Linked DNA regions of Homo sapiens. The protein of the gene in region 3 interacts with the protein of the main gene of each other region in a pairwise test. Each region holds a gene or a part of one and is shown on either strand. Other genes may lie near its edges.

Region 1 (6,515 bases), on a different chromosome or scaffold from region 3:
CTGTGGAAATGATATAAGCCTAATAAGTGTTTTTAAATACCTTCTCCTGTCTATTACAAAAGTACACATTATATAGAAAATGTGGAAATTATAGGGCAGAAGACAAAATAAAATAAAAATCACTCCAGATTATGTAGAAATAACCAACTACTGTTAACTTTTAGGTTTATAAACTTCCAATTATTTTGATTTTCTTTACATATATTAAATTTATTTTTTTCCTTTTCTATAACCTAAGTGATACATATTAAATTTAAAATATTTAAGCCTCTTCCAAAAGCATTTTTTATAAAGTGGTATCTTTTTTTTTTTTTTTTTGAGACAGAGTCTCGCTGTCACCCAAGCTGGAGTGCAGTGGTGCAATCTCTGCTCACTGCAAGCTCCGCCTCTCAGGTTCACACCATTCTCCTGCCTCAGCCTCCTGAGTAGCTGGGACTACAGGCACCCACCACCACACCCGGCTAATTTTTTTTGTATTTTAAGTAGAGACAGGGTTTCACCGTGTTAGCCAGGATGGTCTCGATCTCCTGACCTTGTGATCTGCCCGCCTCAGCCTCCCAAAGTGCTGGGATTACAGGCATGAGCCACCGTGTCTGGCCAGAAAGTGGTATCTTAAAAGTGAACTCCGCTTTCAAGATTTTTGGAGAATGATTGCTGTAACCCAGAAAACAAAAAGGCACCTCATTAAAGATGCTTGCCTACCATTGCAGAGATCAGATATTAAGAATGAGCTGAGGATCTTAGATTGCAGTTATAAATACCGAACTATGGCACTTTTCATCCCAAAGAAACTGGACTTCCACATAAACTCATTTTTTTCCTAATTGTAGACAATTTGAAAAAATTAGAAGAGAAAAAGTCCATTTCACCACTTAAAGCCAACCATAGCTATCACTTTTATATGCTCCTTAAAGTCTTTTTTTTCATATTTTAAGCTAATTTGTCGCTCAAGCTGTATATACAAATTTGCATCTTGATGTTTAACCCAGTATGGTAGCACACTTATTTCCTCATGTTATGACATACTTTTATTATAATAATTTTACAACTGTTTATTATATAATTGTACCATAATTTACTTAAACCATTGTCTACTTTTGAATTTTCTATTATCCTAATTATACTGTGATGAATGTTTCTGTGGACAAAGCTTTCTTTCTTCTGAGGGTTATTTCTTGCTGATAGATTCCTGGAGAGAGAATTATATGTCAAAGGTGTTAATGAAAATTTCTAGTTTTTGTTATTTTCTGAAAGAGTTGGTTTATATCTGTGTCTTTTGGCAAAATCACTTTCAGCATTAGAAAGTGGGACACTAATCTGAAAAATGGGACAAATATATTTATGGAGTATTGGGGGGCAGAATATTTGAAATTGAAACTATTCAAAGAAATCCATTTCTTTTGGTTGCTGTATTCACAAATAATATATCATGATTACATTTTGGAGGAAACTTTCGGAGGGATTAAGGAGATATTAAGTTCATGAATTCGGTAAAGATCTTTGTGTATGGTAGATGTCTTCTGTCTTAAAGAACTATCAGTAATGTACCCTGATCAAGTGTCCTTTAAGAACTAAACTAATCTGGGCCAGGCGCGGTGGCTTACATCCGTAATCCCAGCACTTTGGGAGGCTGAGGCAGGTGGATCACCTGAGATCAGGAGTTCGAGACCAGCCTTTTCAACATGGAGAAACCCTGTCTCTACTAAAAATACAAAATTAGCCGGGCGTGGTGGTGCATGTCGGTAATCCCAGCTACTCGGGAGGCTGAGACGGGAGAATCACTTGAACCTGGGAGGCGGAGATTTCAGTGAGCTGAGATCGCACCATTGTACTCTAGCCTGGGCATACAGAGCAAGACTCCGTCTCAAAAAAAAAACAAAAACAAAAACAAAAAAACAAAACAAAAAAACAACAACTAAACTAATCTGAGTACTATCAAATTTTTTAAAAACACTACTTCTCTGTAATGTAAATGGGTACAGGAAAGCTTTATAAGCTATAGCTCCTTGTCAGTGTTATTTTCTCTCAAGTCTGTTCCATTTTGTTTGGTCCAAAACATTTTGGTAGATGCTGCTATCAAAGCATAGTCTTAATGGGAAGTGGAAGTAGGATCACTATAACAGGAACTCAATACATACTGAATTAGCTTATTATTTAACTCAGTAAGTACTTGTTTAAACTGAATGTTTAAAATTAGACATTGTCAGGCCAGGCCCAGTGGCTCATACCTGTAATCCCAGCACTTTCGGAGGCCAAGGTGGGCAGATCACTTGAGGTCAGGAGTTCAAGACCAGCCTGGCCAACATGGTGAAACCCTGTCTCTACTAAAAATACAAAAATTAGCCGGGCGTGGTAGCGGGCACCTGTAATCCCAGCTACTTGGGAGGCCGAGGCAGGAGAATCACTTGAACCCGGAAGATAGAGGTTGCAGTGAGCTGAGATCATGCCACTGCACTCCAGCCTGGGCAACAGAGTGAGACTCTCCAAAAATAAATAAATAAAATAATAAAAAAATAAAACCAGACATTATAAATGGGCCTCAGCAATAGTGTTTTATAACAAGTACATATTATCAAAAAACAACTGAGATCACTCTTACTAACCTATGTTTCTGAAACAGATGTCTGAGGATAAAAAGGATGAAGGCAGTGGGACAAGTACTTCAGTAAGGAAAGGTGAGAACCAGTGCATATTTGGTGTTGGACTATGAGGGGAAGAATATGTGTGGTGTTGCATGCCTGTAGTCCCAGCTACTCAGAAGGCTGAGGCAGGAGGATTGCTTGAGCTAAGCAGTTCAAGACCACAGCTTGAGAACATAGTGAGACCCAGTACCAAAAAAAAAAAAAAAAAAAAAAGAAAAGAAAAGAAAAAGAAAAAAAGAAAAATGAAATAAAGACAAAGAAAGAAATTTGTGCTGAGTGTGGAAAGCAAAAAACAGAGATGAACAGCCAACAGCATTGTAAGACTTTGCACACTAGAGGAGGCCCATTGGGGTTGGGTGAGTTTTTGCTTTGGACTCCCTAGTGCAGAGGGACAGTTTAGCTGCTTAGCAAGAAGCTATGAATTACTGGGAGGTGGAACTCAAGTTCTTTTTTCACTCCTTAGCTCTCTCCCTTCACATTGCTTGCCCTTCCCACATCCTCATGGTTAGTGCTATTACAGGATTATGAACTGTCTATGACATCTTTTTCAATAACCTATAAGCAGTGGTGCACTGGTAAATGTTTAACAACTGGTTCTCCAAAACTCCTGTGTGTACATATGCTTACTAAAAATTTTACTGATATAAAGGTTGCACGTCATCTCAGCACCTCCAGAGGCTGAAGCAGGAGAACTGCTTGAGGCCAGGAGTTCAAGATCAGCCTGGAGAACATAGCAAAACCCTGTCTTTTTAAAAAAGAAAATTAGCTGGCATGGTTGTTCGCACCTGCGGTCTCAGCTACTCAGGAGGCTGAGGCAACAGAATCACTTGAGCCCAGGAGTTCGAGGCTGCCAGTGAGGCATAATCATGCCACTACACTCCAGCCTGGGCGGCACAGTGAGTCCCTGACTCTAAAAATTTAATAAATAAATAAATAAAAATAAATAAATATATATCACACCATTTAAAATAATAAAATATACAATACTCCTTATGGCCAATTTCATATAGACAACTGATTCTCACAAAACGCTCTCCTTCATTTTTGCCAGACCCTTGCACCTTAGCCAACCATGGCTGCAATTGATGAACAAGTATAGTTCCAGCGTGAATGTTATTTTCCTCTAAGTTAAGGAGTGAGATGAAAATGAAGCAGAAGATAGATGTATGTTGGAACTTAACTTGGTTGTCAGTGATGTGAGTGACTTCTTTGCTGGAATGGATAATAGTTCTAAAATACTGGAAGAATATTTCCTCATTTTGCAGGGTTAGTCACAATGTAGTGGCTACAGGGATGATACTGAAATGTAATATGTAATCTGCATTAGTAACATGTTCTCCATCATTTTCTTAAGCCTAGACAATCAACAAAGCCATACATCAAGCCCTGATGTTTAGTGTCTGCTGATTTTCGTGGTATAAATACTTCCACCAAAGCTGATTTTAAGCTATCCACCTCATGTCATTGAACATGGAGTTGGGAGGAGATGTGCAGTAGTGCACCCTTAACATAGAATTTCCGCCGGGCGTGGTGGCTCACGCCTGTAATCTCAGCACTTTGGGTGGCCAAGGAGGGTGGATCTCCTGAGGTCAGGAGTTCGAGACCAGCCTGGCCAACATGGCAAAACCCTGTCTCTACTAAAAATACAAAAAAATTAGCTGTGCATGGTGGCACGTGCCTATAATCCCAGCTGCTGGGGGGCTGAGGCAGGAGGATCACTTGAACCTGGGAGACAGACATTGCAGTGAGCCGAGATCGTGCCACTGCACTCTAGCCTGGGCAACAGAGCGAGACTCCATCTCAAAAACAAAAAAAAACAAAACAAAAAAACAGCATAGAGTTTCCAGCATCCAAATACAACGGACATAAAAAACCAGAAGAGCACATAGCATAAACAAATGTAGTAAGATAATTAGGAAGTGATGGGTTTTGAGTATTACCTCTATTTTTAGTAACTTAATTTATTGTAAGTTGGTATAATTTAATTTTTAATAATGGCTATGTTTAACCATCTCTCAAAATTCCTGAAAGTTTATCAGCTCTTCTGAGCAGGTACAAGCCAACTTCCTCACACCACTACGTAAAGGAAAGATCCTTCTTAGTTCCTGCTCCCCAAATCACATTCATATACCTGCTTGAATCTGTAAGACTTCAATTTTCAAAGGGAAAAAAGAGTTCTTCCCTGGAAAAGTTTAGAGATCTTTTCCTTTGACCTTATGTTTAGCATCCACAAAACTTCAAAAGTGATATGGTGATATGTCAAGCATCTATCTAAGCTCTCTGGTCTGCAGGAGTTGGGATATGGTACTAGAAAATGCAGTCAGCTGCCAACACTTGCAGGTGACTGGAGAAAAGCAATGGCTTGACAACTGGCCACTAAGAGTGAGCTCACACGTGCACAGGCTTCTTAAGTAATAGGAATTCATAGTAACCAACAATATTACTAACTTGATATGTTTCATTGGTTGTTAGCAAGCAAAGAGACTTCCTGTAAGCGGCAAAGCAAAGACAGTGCCTGGGATCCCTCACAAACAATGAAGAAACCAAAGCAGAACCAACTTACCCCTGTAACCAACTCAGAAGTGGCTTTGGTCAATGCCTATCCTGAACAAAGACGAGCCAGGCGCCAGTCTCAGTTCAATGAGGTGAACCAGAACCAACATGACAGTGATACTACGGAGTATGGCAGTGAAGAGTCTAACTCAGAAGCCTCCTCGTGGAAGGAGAGTGAAAGTGAACACCACCCATCACCAGACAGTATTAAGAGGAGAAAAATGGCTCAGAGGCAAAGGAATCTGGGAAGTTACCAAATGAGCGAAAGGCACTGCCTCCACTGCAAAGCCTTGAGAACCAACGAATGGTTGGCGCACCATTCCCGACAGAAGCCTTCAGTAACACCGCCAATGAAAAGAGACAGTCAAGAGGAAAGTTCCATATCTGACATTAACAAGAAATTTAGTAAATTTTGAATTTTATCACGTTCTTCCTTCACTTGAAGCCAAATGAAAGAGATGAATAAAACATGAAAAATCACCAGAGCTATAGGTGAGGAGACTTTTACAACAAAGTCTCTCTACCAACAAACAAAAACATACTTGGAACCCAAGAGGTAAAATCTCACACAATTCTTCGTTCAAAAAAAAAAAGGCCATCACGTGTTTATGGCACCATTGGAACACCAAAGATCTATATCTGCTATGATTTTTTTATTTGAAATAGCACAAGACAGATATTTTGTGCCTTGAGTGTATATATTTTGTGCCTTGAGTGTATGTATTTTGTTTATGTCTGTAATATGAATAAGAAAGCTCTTTGAAAATGTATTATTTATGTTGAGAAACCACTTAAATGTATTCAGATGTTTTGCTTATCTGACTGACTGAATGAACTAGGTGAAGTTGGTTGGAATAGAATTGCCCCATCCTCTCTAGGTTTGACCCTACAAGAACTGTATTGCCACACATGTCAGCTAGGGGCTGGTGTGGAAGAGGAGCTCAAGAGGCTGGAATAAGATCTGATTCCTGGAGTAGGGAGGAGAGGCAGCATGACCCAGAAGGCAGTTGGCAGTGGGCTACCCACGGTTGTCATCCACAAAGTGCATGGCAAATGTTAAAGGAAAAATTATTCTGACACTTGTTAAAATGGCCAGGAGGACTTCATTCAAGACTCTATTGCAATAGAGAGTAGAAATTGAGCTCCACTCTGAATACAACAAGGACAAGTGGGGATTTATAGCCAGGAGCAGGAGGAGGACATCACAGGATGGGAAATTACCAAAGAGAGACATCAAACATAGGAGTATTCCTGATAAAGTGACCTAACAGGATTCATGCTAAAGGCAGGCCAAGGACTTACACATCAAAAGTGGAGAAT
Region 2 (7,030 bases), on a different chromosome or scaffold from region 3:
GTTCCTCTCAGAGGTCAGCTTTGGGGGAAGGTGGAAAATGCTTTTGAGGGCTTCAGCTGCTGCAAACCTCAACAAATCATATTTTGCCTTCAAAGGTTGGCCAAAGACCACTAACTATTGGAAAAACAAGAGTCCACTAATAGTCATCATCCCCTCCCTGTGTATTTCTTTACCATTCTCAAAATGCCACCATCTCATTGAACCTCCATATCATCCCATTTTGCAGATAGGGAAACTGAGGCCCTGTGATGTCACACAGGGGTCAGCAGCAGTTCCAGACTAGAAGCTACGGAGCACAAACATCTCAGCCTTGGGTGTCAGGCTCAAAACCCAGCTCCTTGTCCGGGAGGAGGTCCCCGGCTCCATCTGGCAGCCCATAGTACAGGTCTTCCTCTTCCTTCTCAGGTTCCTCCCCACCTGTGTCCGAAGCCTCCTTCTCCTCCACCTTTGTCCTTGGGTACCGCTGCCAGTTGTTGGGCAGGGCTATTTCCCACTGCTGCCCCTCTTGGGGCTCATCCTCCAACGTTGGGGCATCAATCAGGGCAAAGTCTTGGAAGCGGTCCAGCGGGCACCTGCAGCCCTGAGGTTCCTGTTGTGGGGAACAAGCTTCCTCCCTGTCATGTGGAGATGCATTGGGGCTGCTGCCTTCACTGGAGTCCATGTCCAGGTCATCTTGGAAGGAAGCCAAGGGGGCAGGGCCCTGGGGACAGGCCAGGGGGCTGCAGGGACAAAGACCACAAGGGCAAGGGTATCTCTGAGTCAGAATGCCTGGGTCCACATTCCAGCCGCTAGCTGCAAGACCTAGGGTAGGATAATCCACCTTCCCGGGCCTCAGTTTCTTCCCAATAACAGAATTCACTCCTGCAGTTCTTTCTTAGGTTTACAGCAGATAATATGTGCAAGGCACTTTGCACAGTGCCTGGCACATAGAAGGTGCTCATGAAATAGGGCTATTACTATGCTATTATCTGAACCAGGTCACTCATCTACTTCTCCAATTATTCAGGGTTCTCCTCTGTTGCTCATAGGCCCAGTTACACTGAGGTGTCCCCGGGTGTCTTTGCCTCCCTCATTGGACTCAGAGCTCCTCAGGGGTAGATTCCAGTGAAGGCTGGGCAGGAAGTTGGTGCTCAGTAATGTGGATGGAATGAATAAGTACATGGATGAATAAGGAGCTCAGTTCACAAACAGACAGGGATGGGAGTGGAGTGGGGAGGGCCTTGCCCAAGGTCACAGAGCAGGTCAGCAGCAGACCCAAATTTGAACTCGGGTCCTCTGGCTCCTGGCCCCCTGCTACTCACGACAAGCATTCAGAGACATCAAGGGCCTACTGTATGCCAGGTACTTAAATGCACTGTCCCAACCCTCAACATTCCTGGGTAGTAGGAATGATCATCCCTGTGTGGGGAAACTGAGGCTAGGGAAAGTAAGGAACCTACCACAGCTACACAGCACAGGAGCTGGGGTTTGAACTGAGGCCTGACTCCCAAGCCCATACTCATTTGTCTGCCACATCTGCCACATCTCAGGGTGTCCCACACCCTCCACTGCCCTCTCCTTACCCCCAGTGTCCCCACCCACCCCTCGGCGGTCCCCCACTCCTCTCCTTTTTAACCCTTGAACTGGGCAGAAGCCCCACTCCTGCCCTCTAAGCACTCACCCGGGCCAGCTCTGAGTTAGGCGTCTTTCCCCTTCACTCTCGTCTGAGCCCTTGTGGATGACCACGGCAGCCTCCATCCAGGCCTGAACGTCGCCAGGGCCACCTTCTCCTCCATCACTGGTTCCCAGCTTCGGCTGCCCCATCTCAGGGGCCAGCAAGGAGCGGTGGTCCTCACTGTAGCTCATGACTTTCATCTGGATGTGGCTGAAGTCAGGCAGGCTCTGGTCATAGGCGGCTTCCTCCCACAGCCTTACATAGGGCGGCTGGGGACTGGGGCTGGAGTGGGAGAGAGAACAGGCAGGCGGCAAAGAGTCACTCAGCAAACACCAGTGTTCTCCCCGGCCCTGTTTGCTTTGGGTATGTGGTCTCCCCTCACCTCACAAGAAGCCTTTGGGGGATGTTACTGCGCCCGTTTCAGGGATGAGGAGGCTGAGGCCCAGCAAGGTGAGTTAATTAAGTGACAAAGCTCAGGCCTGACCCCAAGTCTGACTCTCTATCCAGTGTTTTTTTCACCTGATGCCTCCAAAGTTAACCACAAGGATGCAATTGCAAAATGAAGACCCGTTAACATTGAGTTTGCCGGGTCCCAGATGGTGGGTAAAGGCTGAATGCTTATCAACCCATTATTCTAAACATTATTCTAAAAAATGCCTTGAGGCAGAAATTCTCATTCCCAGTTTACAGATGAGGACATACCCAGCAATGACAGTCTACAGCAATGGGGAACTCCTTCCTGCCAGGCTCTGTTAGTTGGCTCATCTAACCCTCACCATAATTACAAGAGATACTATGAAGAAACTGAGGCACAGAGTCTCTAACAGACTTGTACCCGGGTGACATGGACCCTAGGTGATAGTACTGGAGCTCCAGATATCATGTTCTCTATGACTGTGCTACAGTCCCTCTGGAAAGTAAGGTTCAGAGACTAGGCCCCTTGCCTAGGGTCACACAGCCGGGAAGTGACTGGGAAGAGCTCAGAACCCAGGGTGGCCGGAGCCCCCACTGTATCACAGGAGCCCACCCCAAGTAACCGGCCCTGAGACGGAGCTCTGGCTGGCCTCCATACCCACAGGGTCTATCCCCTTCCTTCCCACTGAGGCAGTTGTTCACCTTGGGTGCCAGGGGCAGAAAACGCCATTATGAACCCCTTCCCCAAGCAAAGCAGAGATCATCCCTAACCCAGCCGACAGACTCTGGGCTTGAAGCCCGGCCTCCTGAGTGCAGAGTCACAGCCCAGGGGGTTGGTGGTCCCACTGCCTCTCCAGGGCTGGAGCATTCTTGGCTGTGCCATGGGAGCCAGGGCTCAAAACCTCCAGAGAGGGAAGCAGTTTGTGGCCAGATCAGGCCTGAATTCAGGCCCCGCCTCCATCACTGCTGAGTGCAGGCCCCGCCTCCACCACTGCTGAGTGCAGGCCCGGCTTCCATCACTGACTCCCCATGAGGTTTGGGGCTAGTGACTACACTTCTCTGAGCCTCAATCTTCCTAGCTGTATAAAGAGCCTAACACCCCCACCTTACAGGGTTTCTATGAGGACTGAGGGAGTCAGTGCCTGACTCAGTCTCTGGCACACAGAAGGCACTTACTAATGATGACAAACACTCATAGAAGACCTACTGTGTGTCAGGTTCTGTTCTTAGCACTCTGCCTATATTATCTCACTTAACCCTCCCTGAAGCCCTAGGAGATAGGTACTATTAGTATCCCCATTTTACAGACGAGGCAAAGAGAGGTCAGTAGCTTGCTGGAAGTCAGGCAGCGAGTAGGCGGCAAAGCCCTGAGGCTGAGCCTTGGCCACCACCATGCCTCTTGTTTGTCAGTAGTAGAAGCACTTACTCCTGTGACTCTATTGCACTGTATTTCTCACAGTACATTTATTTCATTGTATGATTTGTTTCATGGAGATCTTGTATTCACCGAAACACTGTCTCGTCCCTGACAAGACAAAGTCCCTGGGCCTCAGTTTCCTCATCTGTACAATGGGAATAATAATGCCTAACTCACAGAATTGAGAGTTGAAAACAGTCCATAATTTCTAATACATTCTCAGTAAGTGAGAAGGCAAACAGCCTTCCTGCCCTCCCTCTCACTCTCCTCAGTCAGGGGAGACTGGCCTATGGGGCTTACTCCTCCCCTCCCGAGAGGGCCTGGCACCTACCTCTTCATCTCGGCAGCAAGCCCATTCTCCAGCAGGCCCATGGCCTTTGGGGAGAGGATGCCTTGAAAGTCAGAGTCAGCAGGGACGAAGGTGATCTGCAAGCAAAGGAGAGACAGCCTCTGTGCAGTTGACCAGGGTAGGGGGGCTACTGTCCCCTCAGGGAATTGGCAAACCTCTCCATGAGCTCTGGGAGACAGGCTGCACCACGGAGGCCTCCCTGCTTGACAGGAGAGGGGCCTACTTGGGGCACAGCACCAGCGGGAGGATGGACCTCTGTGCTCCTGCTCCCTTCCTGGTTCTTCATTCACTCTACAAACATTTATTATCTGCTGTGTGCAGGCACTGTCGCAGGCACTAGGAGCAGCAAGGAGTGAAAGAGAACCCTGTCCTTGAGGAGCTCACATCTTTTCATTTCCCAGGGGTCTTCGTCCAGTGCCCAGCACAAGCCTGGCACATAGTAGGTGCTTCATCCATATTTGGTGAATGAGTGGAAAGCAAGTCATTGTCATGTGTTTTTGCCACATGGGCTGCAGTGGGTGACAGAGAAGTTATGCCCGCCAGTCCCTGTCCCTGAACTTTCAGGAATCAAGAGGTCTCTGCAAGTCCAGCCCTAGGTGGGCACTGCGTGGTGCAGTCGGAGGCAGATCATGAAGGAGGCAGTGGGTGAGGGAGAGGAGCTGTGCCTGTGGGATCTGGGAGATGGGGTGAGGATCCCTCCTCTGCCAGATTCTCACTGTGGGCCCTAGGCAGGTCATCTCTCTTCGCAGTCTCTCTGTGCTCCTCTGTATAACGGGGCTACCCTCGAAGAGATACTTGCACAGCCATGTTCAGAGCAGCAGTATTCACAAGAGCCAAGAGGTAGATGCAACCCAAGTATCCACTGATGAATGAATGGATAAACAAAATATAGTCTATCCATATGATGAAATACTATTCAGCCTTAAGGATGGAACTTCTGACACATGCTACAACATCACTGAACCTCGAGGACATTATGCTGAGCAGAAAGACAAATACTGTATGATTCTACTTTTCTGAGGCACCTGGAATAGTCAAATCCATAGAGCCAGAAAGAAGAAAGATGGTTGCCAGGGGCTAGAGAGTGGGATAATGGGGAATTGTGATTTAATGGGTATAGAGTTTTAGCTTTACAAGACAAAAAGCATTCTGGAAATTGGTTGGATGACAATGTGAATGTACTTAGCTGTACTGTACACTTAAATATGTTTAAGACACTAACTTTTATGTTACGTGTATTTTACCATGAGTTTTAAAATGGGGCTAGTTACGCCAGTCTCCTGAGGTTGCTGTGAAAATTTCATGAGATCATATATAGGGAATCCCTCAGCATGGTCCCCAGCACATAGTAACTACTCAGTAAATCATAACTTGATGCTATTGATGATTCAGTTGTCTGACTTCTCTGAGTCTTGCTCTCCTCGGCTGAAAATTTTTCCAATAAATATTTGTTGAGACCCCACTGTATTATACCAGATTCATAAATAGCACTTCCCTATTCCCCTTCCCATAGAGCAAAGTGAGTAGAAGACACTTGTCTGCACTAGGAAAGCTCCATTCTGATGGGGAGAAGGGAATGATGGATGGAGGGGGCCTTTGTACTCCTATGAGGAGTGCGCTTTCTCTAGATGTCCAGAAATAAAACAGAGCTCCTGGGCAATGAAGAAAGACGCTGTCTCTACAAAAAAAATAAAAAAATTAAATAACAAATTTAGCTGGATGTGGTGGTGTGAGCCTGTCATCCCAGCTACTTGGGAGACTGAGGCAGGAGGATTGGTTGATCCCAGGAGTTCGAGGCTGCAGTGAGCTATGATTGCACCTCTGCACTCCAGCCTAGGTGACAGACTGAGCTCCTGTCTCTTAAAAACAAAAAAGAAAAGGAAAGAAATAAGGCAGGGGCCTGGGCTTCTTCCACCCCCGTTAAGGATGCTTTGTACTTCCCAGCTAGTACTGTACTTCCTAGAAGCTGCCTCTTCCTCTGCCTCATTACCTCATGGCCCAGTCAGCACCATCATCATCACCGTCACCATCATCATCACCGTCACCATCATCATCACTATCATCATCATCATCATCATCACCATTGTCACCATCACCATCCTCACCATCATTATCACTATTATCATCATCACCATTATCACCATTACCATTCTCACCATCACCATCCTCATCATCACCATCTCCTAATCACCATAATCATCACCATTGTCACCATCACCATCCTCACCATCATCATCTCATAATCACCATCTTTACCATCATCATTCTTATCAGCACCATCACTAACATCATCATCATCATCATCACCATCACCATTCTCACCCTCACTATCCCCACTGCACTCTCATTATCACCATCATATCATCATCACCACCCTTAGGAAAAGCTTGGAGAAGGAAAGGATGGGGCATCTTAAAATGCAAGTTTTTTGATGAGGAGGGACAGGCAGAGTTGAAGCTGGAGAGAGGATATCAGACCATGGAGACCACCAGAACACCAAACTAAGAAGCTTAGCCTTTCTCCAGATGCAATGGGGAGTCCTGAAGGACTCTCAGCAAGAGAGTACACTGTCAGATTTGTGTTTAGGCAGAACACTGAGCAATCTCCAGAGAGAGGGAGGCCACCAGTCAGGACCCTGGTCCTGGTCTCCAGCACAGCAGGCAGGAGTGAGGAATGGGGGATGCGTGGGCAGAGACCCTGCTCTCCCTGCCACTCCTTTCCCTGCTCACAGCTCCCCTGCCCCATCTTCACTAATGGGCTCAGCACCTCCAACTGTCCCATCCACTAGATTTGCCCTGATCCCTTCTCCTCTCTCATGCCTGAGGCCCAGCTGACCACCAAATCTGACCAGGTCTACTTCAGAAATTCAATAAGATAACCTGGGTGGAAGTGCTGGTGCTATGCCTAGCCACAACGGGTACTCTATGTGAAGTGAACTGTAAATGTCACCTTAGTTCCTACAGCTTTGTGTTTGAATTCTGCATTATTCCAGATGACTGTCAGCTCTCACCAAGACCAGAGAAGAAGCCTCCCCACTGGTATGGCTGCCCCCAGACCTTCCTTCTTCTGGATGTCTTTCTCAAACTGCAAAGCTGGTCGTGTCCCATTAACTAAAGGACAAGCTCCAAATTCCTTACCATGGCATCCCAGGCCCTGAAGAGTTGAGCCCCACTCCCTCGCTACCTTTACCTTCCTC
Region 3 (7,030 bases):
TGCAGGCCGGGCGCGGTGGCTCATGCCTGTAATCCCAGCACTTTGGGAGGCCGAGTCGAGTGGATCGCTTGAGGTCAGGAGTTCGAGACCAGCCTGGCCAGCATGGTGAAACCCCATCTCTACTAAAAATACAAAAAAAATTAGCTGGGCATGATGGCGGGCGCCCGTAATCCCAGCCACTCGGGAAGCTGAGGCAGGAGAATTGCTTGAACCCAGGAGGTGGAGGTTGTGGTGAGCTGAGATCGTACCACTGCACTCCAGTCTAGGCAGCAAAGCCAGACTCTGTCTCAAAAAAAAAAAAAAAAAAAAAAGAGTGAAATACTGATACACATAACCAGTTCAATGAATCTTAAAATAATTATGCTTAGACAAAGAAGCCAGAGCCCCTTCTTCCCCAAAAGGTACATACTGTATAGTTCTATTTATATAAAATTATAGAAAATGGAAACTAATTTATAGTGACAGAAAGAAGTTCAGCAGTTGTCTGGGCATGGCAGGGAGGAACAATAGGAAGAATTACAAAGAGGCATGAAGAAAACTTTTGGGAATAACAATTAGGTTCATTATTTTTATTGCAGTGATGGTTTCACAGGCATATACATATGTCAAAGCTTATCAAATCATATACTTCAAACATGGGCCATTTATGATCATATCAACTACATCTCAATAAAGCTGACTTTAGATTTATTTTCTCCTCCTCCTCCTCCCTCTTCCTTTTTATTCATTAATTTTTTTAAAGATGGGATTTTACTATGTTGCCTAGGCTGGTGTCAAACTCCTACACTCAAGCCATCCTGCTGCCTTGGCCTCCCAAAGTGTCAGGAGTACAGGCATGTGCCACCAGGCCTGGCAATAAAGCTGATTTTAAAAAGCAGAATTAGAAAGAATAATGTATCTGTACATACTGACATTTTAAAAAGTCCATAACACATACTAAGTGGTTTTTTCTTTTTTTTCCTTTGAGATGGAGTCTCACTCTGTTGCACAGGCTGGAGTGCAGTGACATGCTATATCGGCTCACTGCAACCTCTGCCTCCTGGGTTCAAGCGATTCTCCTGCCTCAGCCTCCTGAGTAGCTAGGACTACAGGTGCGTGCCACCACACCCAGCTAATTTTTTATTTTTAGTAGAGACGGCGTTTCACCATGTTGGCCAGGCTGGTCTCGAACTCCTGATCTCAGGTGATCCTCCTGCCTCAGCCTCCCAAAGTGCTGGGATTACAGGCGTGAGCCACCACACCCAGCCGACACATACTAAGTTTTAAAAAGGTGTGGAATTATATATATATATGGAGAGAGCTAAATATCTCATGATTCCATTTATGTAAAATAAGTATATTTATATTGAATATATGTATGTGAATGTATACAAAAGGTCTAAGGAAATACATATTAATCTGTTTCCAGTTTGAGATTGGAGAAACAATATGGAGGGCTTTCATCTTATACATTCCTATGTTGTTTACACTTTGTATAACAATCATGCATACTTCTGAAATTTTAAAAATATAAGAAAGTTTAAAAAAAAAAAGTTAAAAAGCCACAGGGCAAAAGATAAAAAAGAAAAGCCAAACTGACATATTTTATAATTTAAAAAATAAAATGGAGTCTTGTGTTTGGAGACTAATTCCCAGTCGTGAAGCTAAAGTAAAGAGCATAAGCATCAAATTTGCTTGGACTTAGATTCAGATCTGCTCTCTCTGCTCTTGCCCAATGGAAAATCACCACTTCCATGAGCCACCGAGATGAGTGACAGCAACTGTCTATTCCTCAGGTATCCTGAGGCACACACCAAAAGCTTTAAAAGACCAGCAGTTTTCACTCCAATTTTCAATGGGGATGAGGAACAAACAAGGCTCCAGTAGAAAATCTGGTGGCCGGGCACGGTGGCTCACACCTGTAATCCCAGCACTTTGGGAGGCCAAGGTGGGAAGATCATGAGGTCAGGAGATCAAGACCATCCTGGCTAACAGGGTGAAACCCTGTCTGTACTAAAAATACAAAAAATTAGCCGGGCATGGTGGCACGCACCTGTAGTCCCAGCTTCTCGGGAGGCTGAGGCAGGAGAATCGTTTGAACCCGGGAGGTGGAGGTTGCAGTGAGCCAAGATCACGCCACTGCACTCCAGCCTAGGCGACATAGCAAGACTCCGTCTCAAAAAAAAAAAAAAAAAAATTCTGGCAAGGTTTCTGAGCCCACACTCCTCAGGATATTTAGTACCTTGGATAATTTTCTGCTGCTGTTGCCGGATTTCATCAAAACCCAAGCCTCTGGTCTCCTCTGGCTCCTCAAAGAGCCAAGGGTTGGGTGCTCCTCGCTTAGCCTCTTCACTCATCAGGCTGGACCTAAAGAACAATATTAAATGCATGATATATCTCAAAACATGCAGCTCAAATGCAAATTACTCCCACAAGTGCAGAGGTGGCCAGCCTTGAATGCTTTGAAAATTCAATTCAAACACAATTTATTGCATCATTAGTTTATGCCAGGAACTGTATTCAGTGCTGGACGAGATACAAGGATGAATAAGGCACAAGCTTGGTCCTCAGAATTACAGCCTGTTATAGAGATGATGGGAGAACATAATATTTGTACTAATCCTCCAAGAGATGTTTGAGTTAATAATCCTAAAAGAAGTTGGTAATAAATGAGGTTCTTAAATTTCAAAAACAGAAGGCCGAACAGCGGCCTTTTTATTAGGACAAAGTTTGTCTCAGAGGCTACGTGACCCCAAAGGTACAAATATTATTTCTCAAGCAGACACAATGTTGCGACTACAGATTACAATGTTGTTGTTGTTTTAAAAAAAGACCATATAATTTCCCATTAAAGGGTATTTGGAGCCGGGCGCAGTGGCTCATGTGTGTAATCCCAGCCCTCTGGGAGGCTGAGGCGGGCAGATCACCTGAAGTCAGGAGTTCCAGACCAGCCCGTCCAACATGATGAAACCCTGTCTCTAATAAACACAAAAAAAATTAGCCGGGCTTGGCGGCAGACATCTGTAATCCCAGCTACTTGGGAGGCTGAGGCAGGAAAATCGCTTGAACCTGAGAGGCGGAGGTTGCAGTGAGCCAAGATGGCGCCACTGCACTGCAGCCTGGGTAGCGGAGCAAGACTCTGTCTCAAAAAAAAAAAAAAAAAAAGGAGTATTTGGTTGCTCAGAGACAGAAACACATGCAGGGTTTCAATACCAATTTTGTGACTATAATGTAGCATTCATAACAGAATAAACACATTCTGATTTGTCAATCTTAACCTTACTCCCTCTAATAATCCATGTGCCCTTTCTGCACGAGACCAGTTGGTCTCGCTGTCTAAGGAACAGGAAACACATGATTTCCACCTCAGTCCCCATGTTTTCAGGATTTTTCTCCTCTCAAGTAGCTCCTCTCCTCTCCCCACCTGTCTGCATTCTGTCCAAGCTGAGAAGATCATCTTGTCCAGGACACGACCTTCTGACCAATTCAACAAAGAGATGAACATTAGACTCATCTTTAGAGCTCTCAACAGATTCATGAAAAATCATAGAATAAATGATGGGTGGGACATCAGCAAGATGACTGATTAGAGTCAGCTGGTGCTCACCCGCTCCCCCCCCCCCCCACCCACCTTTCTTAGGAAAGGACTAAGGCAATGAATAAACAGCTAAGATTTGACTTCAGTGTGGGAAAGTGCTGAACTGCAGTGGGGAAGTGGAGAGGCCCCTGTGGTGACTGAAAGTCTAGGAGGGCAGCATGAAGGCCCCCAGCCTCTGTGGCCCCATCTCTTCCACCAGGACTGAGGAGGCCTGGACATATGAAGGCCTTCTCCCTGTGAGGAAAAGGTAAGCGGGAGATTCCCACCTGCCCCCACTGCCACTGCAAACACCTACAGTCCTTATTACAGGAGGATCCCCCAGTCCTTGCAAGTTCTGAGCCCAGTTTGGAGAGCTGCTGGGAATTCGTACAGTTGCACTGCCCCAGATTAGGAGCATTCCCCACTCCCCACCCACTCCATGAGCCAAGTTACTACAGCATGGCGCCATCTTTAGACCACAGCTCCCTCTGGAGTGTGCCTTCCTCTTGGGGCCAGTAGCCACTGCACCTTTCCAGCACTGGGACTCCATTTTCATGCCACCAAAGCTACACAGGTGGCTGAACTCCACAACCCAGGGCTCGGGAATGGCTGTGACTCTGGTCCTGCAATGAAGGGAAACCACCCTCTGCACTTTCAGCCACAGAAACAGTCCCACCCAGGGCAAACCCACTCTTGAGCCAACCAAACTGCTGCATACCCTCCTGCAAGCAGAAGGCCCTGAGCAACTGACAGGCTAGCAGAGTGACTACGCTCCTGCATCCCGGATCTATGAAACAGTCGGGCAGTGCAGCCCCCTACAGACATGCCCCCGGCCTGCCCAAAGGCCCCACACCTCAATCAGGGCCTGAGAAACAACCCTGCAGGCTGCCCCTGGCAGACATACCCCCAGGCCAGCCAAGTAGCCATGTGTCCATATCTCAGGCCTGAAAAACAGCCCATGGGTCACCCCTAGCGGCAACTCCCCTAGGCCAGCCGAGCAGCCTTGTGTTCATATCCCGGGTCTGAGAAGCAACTCCTCAGGCCACTCCTGGCAGACATGCCCCCGGGGCCATCAAGCAGACTTATGCCCACCTCTCATGCCTGAGAAATAGCCCTGTAGGCTGTCCCCAGCAGGCATTCCCCACAGGAGAGCTGAGCAGCAGTGTGCCCATGTCCCAAACCTGAGAAACAGCCCAACAGGCCACCTCTGGCAGGCATACTCCCAGACTGGCCAAGCAACCAAGCAACTGTGCCCTCAGCCAGAGTAAGGGCACCAACCCCAACCCCAGCAAGTGAGACCCCAAGTTGGACAACCCACCATGTGAACGCATGCATCGCTGACCTGACAAATAGCCCGGTGAACACATCCCTGGCAAAGTCATGCCACCACCACCACAAAGCCTCTCAGCTGAGGCCACTGAGACACTCACAAATGTCACTGGCATGGATTACAGTTAAAGAAACTACACAAAAACTACACTACTATGCCCACCTGGAACCAAAGCCAATGCATCCCACTGAACCAACACCCCAAGATCCATTCATACAAATATTTCTTTCCCTGCAAAACCTACCACATAAAATTGGAAGAGGCAATTATTCCACCAGATGCATAGACATCAACATAGGGATACATCGAACATGAAAAAGCAAGGAAACATGACACCTCCAAAGGAATACAATAATTCCTGTGTAATAGACCCCAATGATAGAGAAATATACAAAATGACAGAAAAAGAATTCAAAATAGTAATCTTACAGTGAGATACAAGATAATAGAGCTAGACAATTTGATGAAATCAGGAAAACAATTCATGACTTGAACAAGAAATTCAACAAGAAGATAAATACCATAAAAAAGAACAAAACAGGTATCCTGGAGTGGAAGAATTCAATGAATAAGTAAATAAGTACAAGCTAGAGCTTTACCAAAAGACTAGACCAAGCAGAATTTTATTTATTTATTTTTTTGGAGACAGGTTCTTACTCTGTCACCCAGGCTGGAGTGCAGTGGCATTATCTCAGCTCACTGCAACCTCCACCTCCTGGGCTCAAGTGATTCTCCCTCCTCAGTCCTCCTGAGTAGCTGGGACTACAGGGGCATGCCATCACATCCAGCTAATTTTTGTATTTTTTGGTAGAGATGGGGTTTCACCATGTTAGCCAGGTTGGTATCGAACTCCTAATCTCAAGTGATCTGCCCGCCTTGGCCTCCCAAAGTGCCAGGATTACAGGTGTGAGCCACCATGCGTGGCTGAATTTTTGAACTTGAAGACAGATCTTGTGAAATAACACAGAAAGATGGGGGGAAGAAAAAGTAAAATGGAATGAAGAAAGCCTACAGAATTCATGGGACACTATTAAGTGAACAAATATTCACACTGTAGGTGTTCCAGAAAGAGAAAAGAAGGGCAAATGTACAGAAAACATTGAATGAAATAGTAGCTGAAAACTTCCCAAGTCTTGGGAGCTTCCAGATCCAGGAAGCTAAAAGAATCCCAAATAGATTCCATTCAAACAGGACCCCTCTTAGGCACATTAGAGTCAAATTATCAAAAGTCAAAGACAAAGAATTCTAAAAACAGCAAGAGAAGGACTGGATGTGGTGGCTCATGCCTGTTATCCCAGTACTTTGGGAGGCCGAGGCTGGCAGATCACGATGTCAGGAGTTCAAGACCAGCCTGGCCAACATGGTGAAACTCTGTCTCTACTAAAAATACAAAAAAATTAGCTGGGCATGGTGGCAGGTGCCTGTAATCCCAGCTACTCAGGAGGCAGAGGCAGGAGAATCACTTGAACCTGGGAGGCGGAGGTTGCAGTGAGCTGAGACCACGCTACTGCACTCCAGCCTGGGCAACAGAGCAAGACTCCATCTCAAAAACAAACAAACAACAATGACAAAAAGAAACCAGCAAGAGAAAAGCATCAAATCACCTATGAGGGAGTTCCCATTAGACTAATAGCAGATTTCTCAGCAGAAATCTTACCAACCAAGAGAGAATAGGATTTTATGTTCAAAGTACTAAAAGAAAAAAAAAATCTGCCAACCAAGAATATTACATGCAGCAAAGATATCCTCCAGAAATGAAAGAGAAATAAAATCTTTCACAGACAAGCAAAAACGAAGGTAATCCATCACCACTAGACCAGTCTTACAAGAAGTGCTCAAGGGAGTATTACATCTGGAAGTGAAAAGATCATAACAGCCATTATAAAAACATGTGACACTATAAAACTCACTGGTAGAGCCAATATACAAAGGAAAAAGAGAAAGAAATCAAGCCTTATCACTTCAGAACACTACCCAACCACAAAAATAAACAGTAAGAGGAAGTAAGGAACAAAGGATATAGAAAACAGCCAGAAAACAATAAAATGACAAGATAAGTCCTCACCTATTAATAATAACCTTGAATGTAAGTGAATTAAATATCTCATTAAAAGACATAGACTGGATAACTAGATTAAAAAAAA
Region 4 (6,887 bases), on a different chromosome or scaffold from region 3:
ATTTACTACATATAATGAACATAAAAATTATTTATTCAAATAATCACAGACAATGATAATCCTTTTTATAACTACCATATCACAAGACAATATTTTGGATTCTTGGGTTAAATTTTACTTTATTTGAATACATGAGCTTCAAATAAAATTTGTAATGAAGGATGTAAAAAGAATACAGCCCTACCTCCTGTGTTAAAAAGCAAACTATGACCACTTATGAAAAAGCAAAGAATCCGGAAACCCATAGACAAAAAGCAAAATCTTTTTTTTTCCATAACATATCCTTTATATTTCAGATTCTCCATGGCTTGGTTTGCCCTAAAGGCATTTCTATTCTGAGGGAAACTTTCAGTGAAAATACCCGAGTTCCATAACAAAGTAATCAAGAATCATGGGTGAATGTCATTATACTTAAAAGGGGCAGAAATATATCATAATCATGTTTTATTGGGTATGTTTTACCTTGCTATAAAATGAATGGTTATTGCCTGTTACTCAGATTTTACCGTATGTCTGGGTACACAGTTTTACTGCTTTCTGCATTGCCCTTATGCTTTTTATTTTGTATTCTTAACCAAATTCTGTCTTGGTTTGTTGAATTTTCTCTTTTTGATATTAATCTCTTTCTCAGGTTGCTAGATTATTTTTATAACTTAGCCTATAGTATTTTAAAAGTTGAGTAGGGTTCAAGTTCAATGTTCTGAGTAAGGGTAAGTTTAGTACCATTAACAAGAAAGATCACCATCTCCATCTTCTATTTGTATTTGAGGAGTAATCTATACCTATATCATTAACCATGGTTTATCTTGGGAGAAAGGAGATATTAGGAGGAACACATTTCTGCTTATAGAAAAATAACTTTCCCACATTTTGGAAGTGAAGAGAGGACATTTTTTTAAGTATTTTTTCCCCCATATCAGACTACTGAATGTCATTGGAAAGCTGCTACAATTCTTAGACTTAGAAACTGAAGACTCATTCAGGTAGCTTTAAAAAGTTCACTGAAGCAGGCTTTAGTTTAAGTTTGAATTTATTTAAACTTGGCCAGAACCAGCCATGGCTTGAAATGAGTCCAGAATTGGAATAAGGTGCTGTTTCTTTTTCTTTGACCTTCAGTCATGAACATTATGATACGGACTTTTCATCAAGTAAATTAACACTTATTAAGTAAATGAAGAACGCATTAAAATTTATCATTAATGTGTTAAAAATCTCAAGTGAAAGTAGATTTTGAGCTTTGGTTATGTGAAATACAATTTAGTAGGTAAAATTAGGACTAGCAGGTCCTGGGTGAAACTGAAGGTAAAGGGGCTCAGCTTTGACAGAACCTCTACTGCAGGCTCCAGCCGGTCCACTACAGGGCTGGTCCTAGGGGGTACCCAGTAAAACCACTGTGAACAAATGACAGAATAGCCAGGCTGTCTAATCACTTTGACAGCAACATCTTTACACAACACTTAAATTGTTTGGGAAGCCAAGTTCTAATTCTGAAACAATTATTACTTCTAACATGGTTCTCTACTTACCACATTGCACATTTGGAAAGTGTAGATTGTGAAATATTTTTATAATTCCTAATGGTAATAATTATATCAGTTTGTAAAGTCAGCAATATTGATAAGCAGCAGTACAAGTAAATACAATAATCACAGTTTGTTTTGCTTTGAAACTTAAATCTATTTAACACCTTCCCCTGTCTCTTGATCTTCATGTTCCCAGGGGATAGGGTCATTGTCCTGTACAGAAGGGACTGTGTCCCTCTCATGCCAAAACTGCTCTACGTCAGGAAGGATGGGAATCTCTGCCTTCTCAGTTTTCCCTTTGCCAGAGGAGGGAGAGCTGGGTTTCTCTTTTTCTGGTATGGATGCTGGGGATTCTGGAGATGGAACCTTGTCAGGAAGACCCTCTGAGTTGCCAGCTGGTGTTTCCTGAGACTCTGAGACAGTTGGAGGTTTTTTGGTTATCATCCATTTCCATACACCTTTCAAGCCTTCCCTGAACTCTTCCGACATCACAAGAAAAATGAGAGGATTTGCTGAAGAGATGGAAAACATCAAGACTTGAGACAGGGCTATGAAACCTTGTGGTGGGGCCGGGCCTGCAGCCTTCAGATGCCATACCCACAGCCAAGCTACCCATTCGGGGAGCCACAAGAGAGCAGAGATGATGGCAATGCTCAGCAGCATCACTGTGACTTGCTTTGAGCGTATCTGGTTTCTAAGATTTTGAGTCTTAGTTCCTCGTTTTTTACATTGGTCATAAGCTCTCCAGAAATAAAAGCTGGCAAAAAATAATGGAAGGCCAAATGCCAGGAGTGGGTAGAGCTTACCAAACATCGACATAAACTCTTCAGCCACAGCTGGTACATCCACGAGGCACATTTCCACACCTTCATGATGCCTGATGGTGCTAAAGAACCATTCCGGCAGGGGTAACAGGCTAGCCACAGTCCAGATGGCCACCAGCACTGACCAGATGGTGTAGTTGTGGATACTCACTTGCTTGGCTGGGTCACTTGCATACATGAAGCATACTTTGGCCACCACAACGATTGTCAGGCTCTTGGCTGCCATGCATGTGTGGATAAACCAGTCAGAGGACTTGCAGACAAACCAGCCTAGATCCCAAACACTTTTGGAGTACGCCGTAGCTCGGATAGGTGCAGAAAACAGCAGGAGGGAGAGATCAGCCAGGCTGAGATTCAGAATCAGGGAGTGGATCATGGATGGCTTTCCTTTCCAAGCATTGTGAAGGAGGATGCCAATCACACACAGGTTTCCCACGAAGCCCACCAGGCAGACAGCCACCAAGAGAGCCGGGATGATGGTTCTCCAGTCCTGGGAATCAGAGGGCAGGTACCCTCCGGCAAAGTGGAGGTGAGCAAAGGACACATTCATGCTGCTGGAGTTAGAGTCTGCAAAGGCAGCTGCCAGCATCACTCTTCACAGCTTCTTACAGAAGTTAGATTCTTATTTAGGTTTGTCTTTCTGCCTGGGCTCTTTTGCATAGGAAATAAGTACTCTGTCGTCAGTGTCAAATGACACTTCTGGATCCTCCCCTTGCTTATTTCCTGAGAGCAGAATGTGGAAGGAGGCTGGCTGTTAAGCTCTTCTCTGCTGCATACAATATACTTGTGACTGTACCGACTGTCAGATAGCAGGAGCACATGGCTGCTGCTCATTAGCAAGTCTAATACCAAATCGTCAGCCCTGTGGAGTAATACAAATATACCCATAAATGATGAATGAAGAGAACATACATGTAAGTGGCATGTGTTCCTTGGGGGGTCACTAGAGCCAGTCAAGGCAATTATTTTCAACCAGCTCTTCCTAAAATCTTGACTGCTGTCTGTAATTTAGTGAACACTACATCTGAACCAAGTTCTTTGAACTTCACCTGATGGCCGGATCCAGTGGGTCTGGAGTAGGGCCCAAGAAATCATTTCTAACAAGTTCCCATGAGACTCTGATGCTGCAGGTTGGGAGACCACACTTTGAGAACCACTGTTTTAAACTGAGAACTAAAGCTTCCCCTACCCACTCTGCAGAGATGAGCTTCCTCTTCTTTTCCCCAACCCTTACAACCACCTCAGTTCCATCAACAGCTGGCTGAGTTCAAACACAGCTGGATAATGAAAACAAGTTAGAAGTCCTATTAAAAAAATCTAATTATGGATGACTCTCAGTTTATTCTATTACGAGTTTTTAGAAGCAATTTTACAGCTCCAAATTAGAACTGCTTTACATACTAATAAGACTTTTCAACAAGTGATGGTGATGAAGGCAACTGCATGATGAATTAAGCTGCTTTTCAGAGAGCATTCCTAGAGGATTTACCAAGACAAGAGAAATGAAAGAAAAATCAATATCTATGTGGAAGGCATTTAAGAGATTTTTTTAAATTATATTTTAAAGTTGGTAAAGATTTTGTGCTGGGCACACTGGCTCATGCCTGTAATCCCAGAATTTGGGGAGGTGGAGGCGGGAGGATTGCTTAAGGCCAGAAGTTCGAGACCAGCCTGGGCAACAAAGTGAGACCCCTGCCCCCACCTCTACCAAACAAACAAGAAAAAAAAAAAAAAGAAAAAAAAAAAAGTCAGCCATGATGGTGTACACCTGTAGTCCTAGCTACTTAAGAGACTGAGGTGAGAGGGTTGCTTAAGCCCAGGAGTTCGAGGTTGCAGTGAGCTATGACTGTGCTGCTGCACTCCAACCTGAGTGACAGAGTGATCCTCTGTCTCTAGAAATAAAAAAATTCTCAGATAAGATGATTTGGTAGAACTAGCCCTGAAATTTTAAAATAAGCAATGGATACTCTGGGGGGATTAGAGGAGCTCAAAATGTTCAGAGAATGGGGTTTGTGGGGTTGATATGAAGATACATGCTACATTGAGTGTGGCTAGTCAGAAAAGCTAAAGCATGATATACAGGAGAGTATGCTGCTGCATTCAGATCTCTGGATTCTGGTACTGTGCTTTCACGTTTTTCGCAAGTAAAGAAGGGTCTGACGTTTTAAAATTCTTCAGTGTCCTAGAAAATAAATAAGTAGTGATCAGTATAGCTATTGGGACAGTGGTCAGTGGTGCTGGGTTCCTTTGTTTCCATTTCTATTTCCTTTTGCTTTCCTTCCTTTTACCTCTGGGAAGTAGTTGTTCCTATAGAACAGTAAATTGGGGCAACACCTTATTCCAGCAAGGCACAGTAACTCCCAGTAACTACTTAAGGATGAAATATCCTTGAGTCTCAACAAGCATCACTTTTGGGTGTGAAGAGGCCCGCAACGTCTTACAGGGAAGAAAATGGGGGAGGGAGCAGAGTGATGTTTTGCAGATTGTAGACTACAAGGAAGGTAGTTCACTTGATGTATGTGGAAGAGATTCATTCAGAACCAAGAAACAAATATACTGCTTCACACTGTGGCTTATATATTCAAGATTATGATATTCAAGCCTCCTGAAGCTGTATAAGATAAAAAGCTAAATGGGTTCAAGCCACCTTTAATACCATGGAAATTTGATTCTTAATAGACAATTGAGGGAAACTAAAGACTGTCATGTGGTACTTCCCAAGTCTATTGGTACTGACTCAGGGAAGCATCTCCTGGTGCTCCAGCTAGAGATAAAGTCTTTGGACTGAAGGATAATGAACTTTCTCCGCTCTTTTGGGGGAAATTTATTTTAACTTTTTATTTAAAAATAATTGCTTCTGGGCACGGTAGCTCACACCTGTAATCCCAGCACTTTGGGAGGCCAAGGCAGGTGGATCACCCGAGGTCAGGAGTTCAAGACAAGCCTGGCCAACATAGTGAAACCCCGTCGCTACTAAAAAATACAAAAATTAGCCAGGTGTGGTGGCACATGCCTGTAGTCTCAGCTACTCGGGAGGCTGAGGCGGGAGAATTGCTTGAATCTGGGAGGCTGAGGTTGCAGTGAGCCGAGATGGTCCCACTGCATTCCAGCCTGGGTGACAAAGAGAGACTCTGTCTTAAAAAATAAAAAAATAAAAATAATTGCAAATGTATAGAGAAAAAATGCAAGAAGAGCACAAAGAATTGCCCTATATACTTCATCTGAGTTCACCGATTAATTATTTATTGAGACACAGTCTCACTTTGTCACCCCAGGCTGGAGTGCAGTAGCGCACTCTTGGCTCACTGCAAGCTCTGCCTCCTGGGTTCATGCCATTCTCCTGCCTCAGCCTCCTGAGTAGCTGGGACTACAGGTGCCCGCCACCATGCCTGGCTAAATTTTTTTTTATATTTTTAGTAGAGACGGGGTTTCACCGTGTTAGCCGGGATGGTCTCGATCTCCTGATCTCGTGATCCGCCCGCCTCGGCCTCCCAAAGTGCTGGAATTACTGGCTTGAGCCACTGCGCCCGGCTGAAAATTTCAACATGTGATTTTGGAGGGCACATAAAGATTCAGACCATACTACCCAAGTTTCACATTTTACTTTGAATATTAGCCCTTGTATATCTGAGTATCTGATGGATGTTATATGTGGCTTGTATCTACATTTTCTTCATTTTAAAATTATTTCCGTATAAAGGATAAATGTAATTAGCAAACATAAAAGAAGTCTTTATTTGCATTATAAGTGGAAGTTATTTGAATCTTTGTTTATAGCATATTCACTTAAAACATAGAATTCAGTTGTAGATGTGGTGAACATTTGTCAGGTTTCCTTATTTTTATTTATTTTGGGGAGGTGCCTAGTATATGAACCTCTCCTGTTGGATAGAAGGGATTCTGGGGAAAAATGATATGGATGGGGTGGATAGAGCAGAACAATTAAAAACAATTGAGAATTATTTGAGATGGAAACTGGAAACAACCTCATCCCCACAAAATGCTGGAAACAACCCAAATGTTTATCAGCTGGTCAATAGATAAACAAGTGGCTACCTTCATGCCATGGAACATTATTCAGCAATAAAAATGAATGATAAATTCAACAATATGGATGAAAAAAAGCACTATGCTAAATAAAAACATCCAGACCAAAAAAAAAAATACCTACAGTAAGATTCCATTAATAGGAAATGTCCAGAAAAGGCAAATCTATAGAAACAGGAAGTAGAATAGTGGTTCCCTGGGTCCCGAGGTGTGAAAGGGGAGTGACCGCAAATAGGCACAGAGGATATGTTTGGGGTGATGAAAATGTTCTATGATTGCATTTTATGGTATGCAAATTATACCTCAATAAAAGCTCTTTTCAAGAAAGGAGTTATTTGGGATGGAGAAAAGGTAAAGAGCAGATTTCCCTGCTCTTGAAATGCTGAGTAGCCTCCAGCAGAATGGATATTCTATTCTGAGACTTTTAAATTTATTTTTATTTTTATTTTTTCTGAGGGCTCTGTCGCCCAGGCTGGAGTGCAGTGGCACGATC

The links.
Region 1: the proteins of STX8 (region 3) and SSMEM1 interact in binary tests that used the Homo sapiens proteins (3 or more experiments, as listed by UniProt).
Region 2: the proteins of STX8 (region 3) and BSND interact in binary tests that used the Homo sapiens proteins (3 or more experiments, as listed by UniProt).
Region 4: the proteins of STX8 (region 3) and GPR151 interact in binary tests that used the Homo sapiens proteins (3 or more experiments, as listed by UniProt).

The regions. Positions count from the first base shown.
Region 1 is NC_000007.14:130,210,860-130,217,374, forward strand, and holds the end of SSMEM1 (serine-rich single-pass membrane protein 1), read left to right. Parts: intron 1-2,620; coding exon 2,621-2,675; intron 2,676-5,114; coding exon 5,115-5,611; 3' UTR 5,612-5,985; downstream 5,986-6,515.
Region 2 is NC_000001.11:55,001,903-55,008,932, reverse strand, and holds part of BSND (barttin), read right to left. Parts: intron 3,912-7,030; coding exon 3,817-3,911; intron 1,937-3,816; coding exon 1,661-1,936; intron 720-1,660; coding exon 305-719; 3' UTR 1-304.
Region 3 is NC_000017.11:9,502,817-9,509,846, forward strand, and holds part of STX8 (syntaxin-8), read right to left. Parts: intron 2,347-7,030; coding exon 2,222-2,346; intron 1-2,221. UniProt on the Homo sapiens protein: Vesicle trafficking protein that functions in the early secretory pathway, possibly by mediating retrograde transport from cis-Golgi membranes to the ER.
Region 4 is NC_000005.10:146,513,178-146,520,064, forward strand, and holds the start of GPR151 (G-protein coupled receptor 151), read right to left. Parts: upstream 3,014-6,887; 5' UTR 2,937-3,013; coding exon 1,677-2,936; 3' UTR 1-1,676. UniProt on the Homo sapiens protein: Proton-sensing G-protein coupled receptor.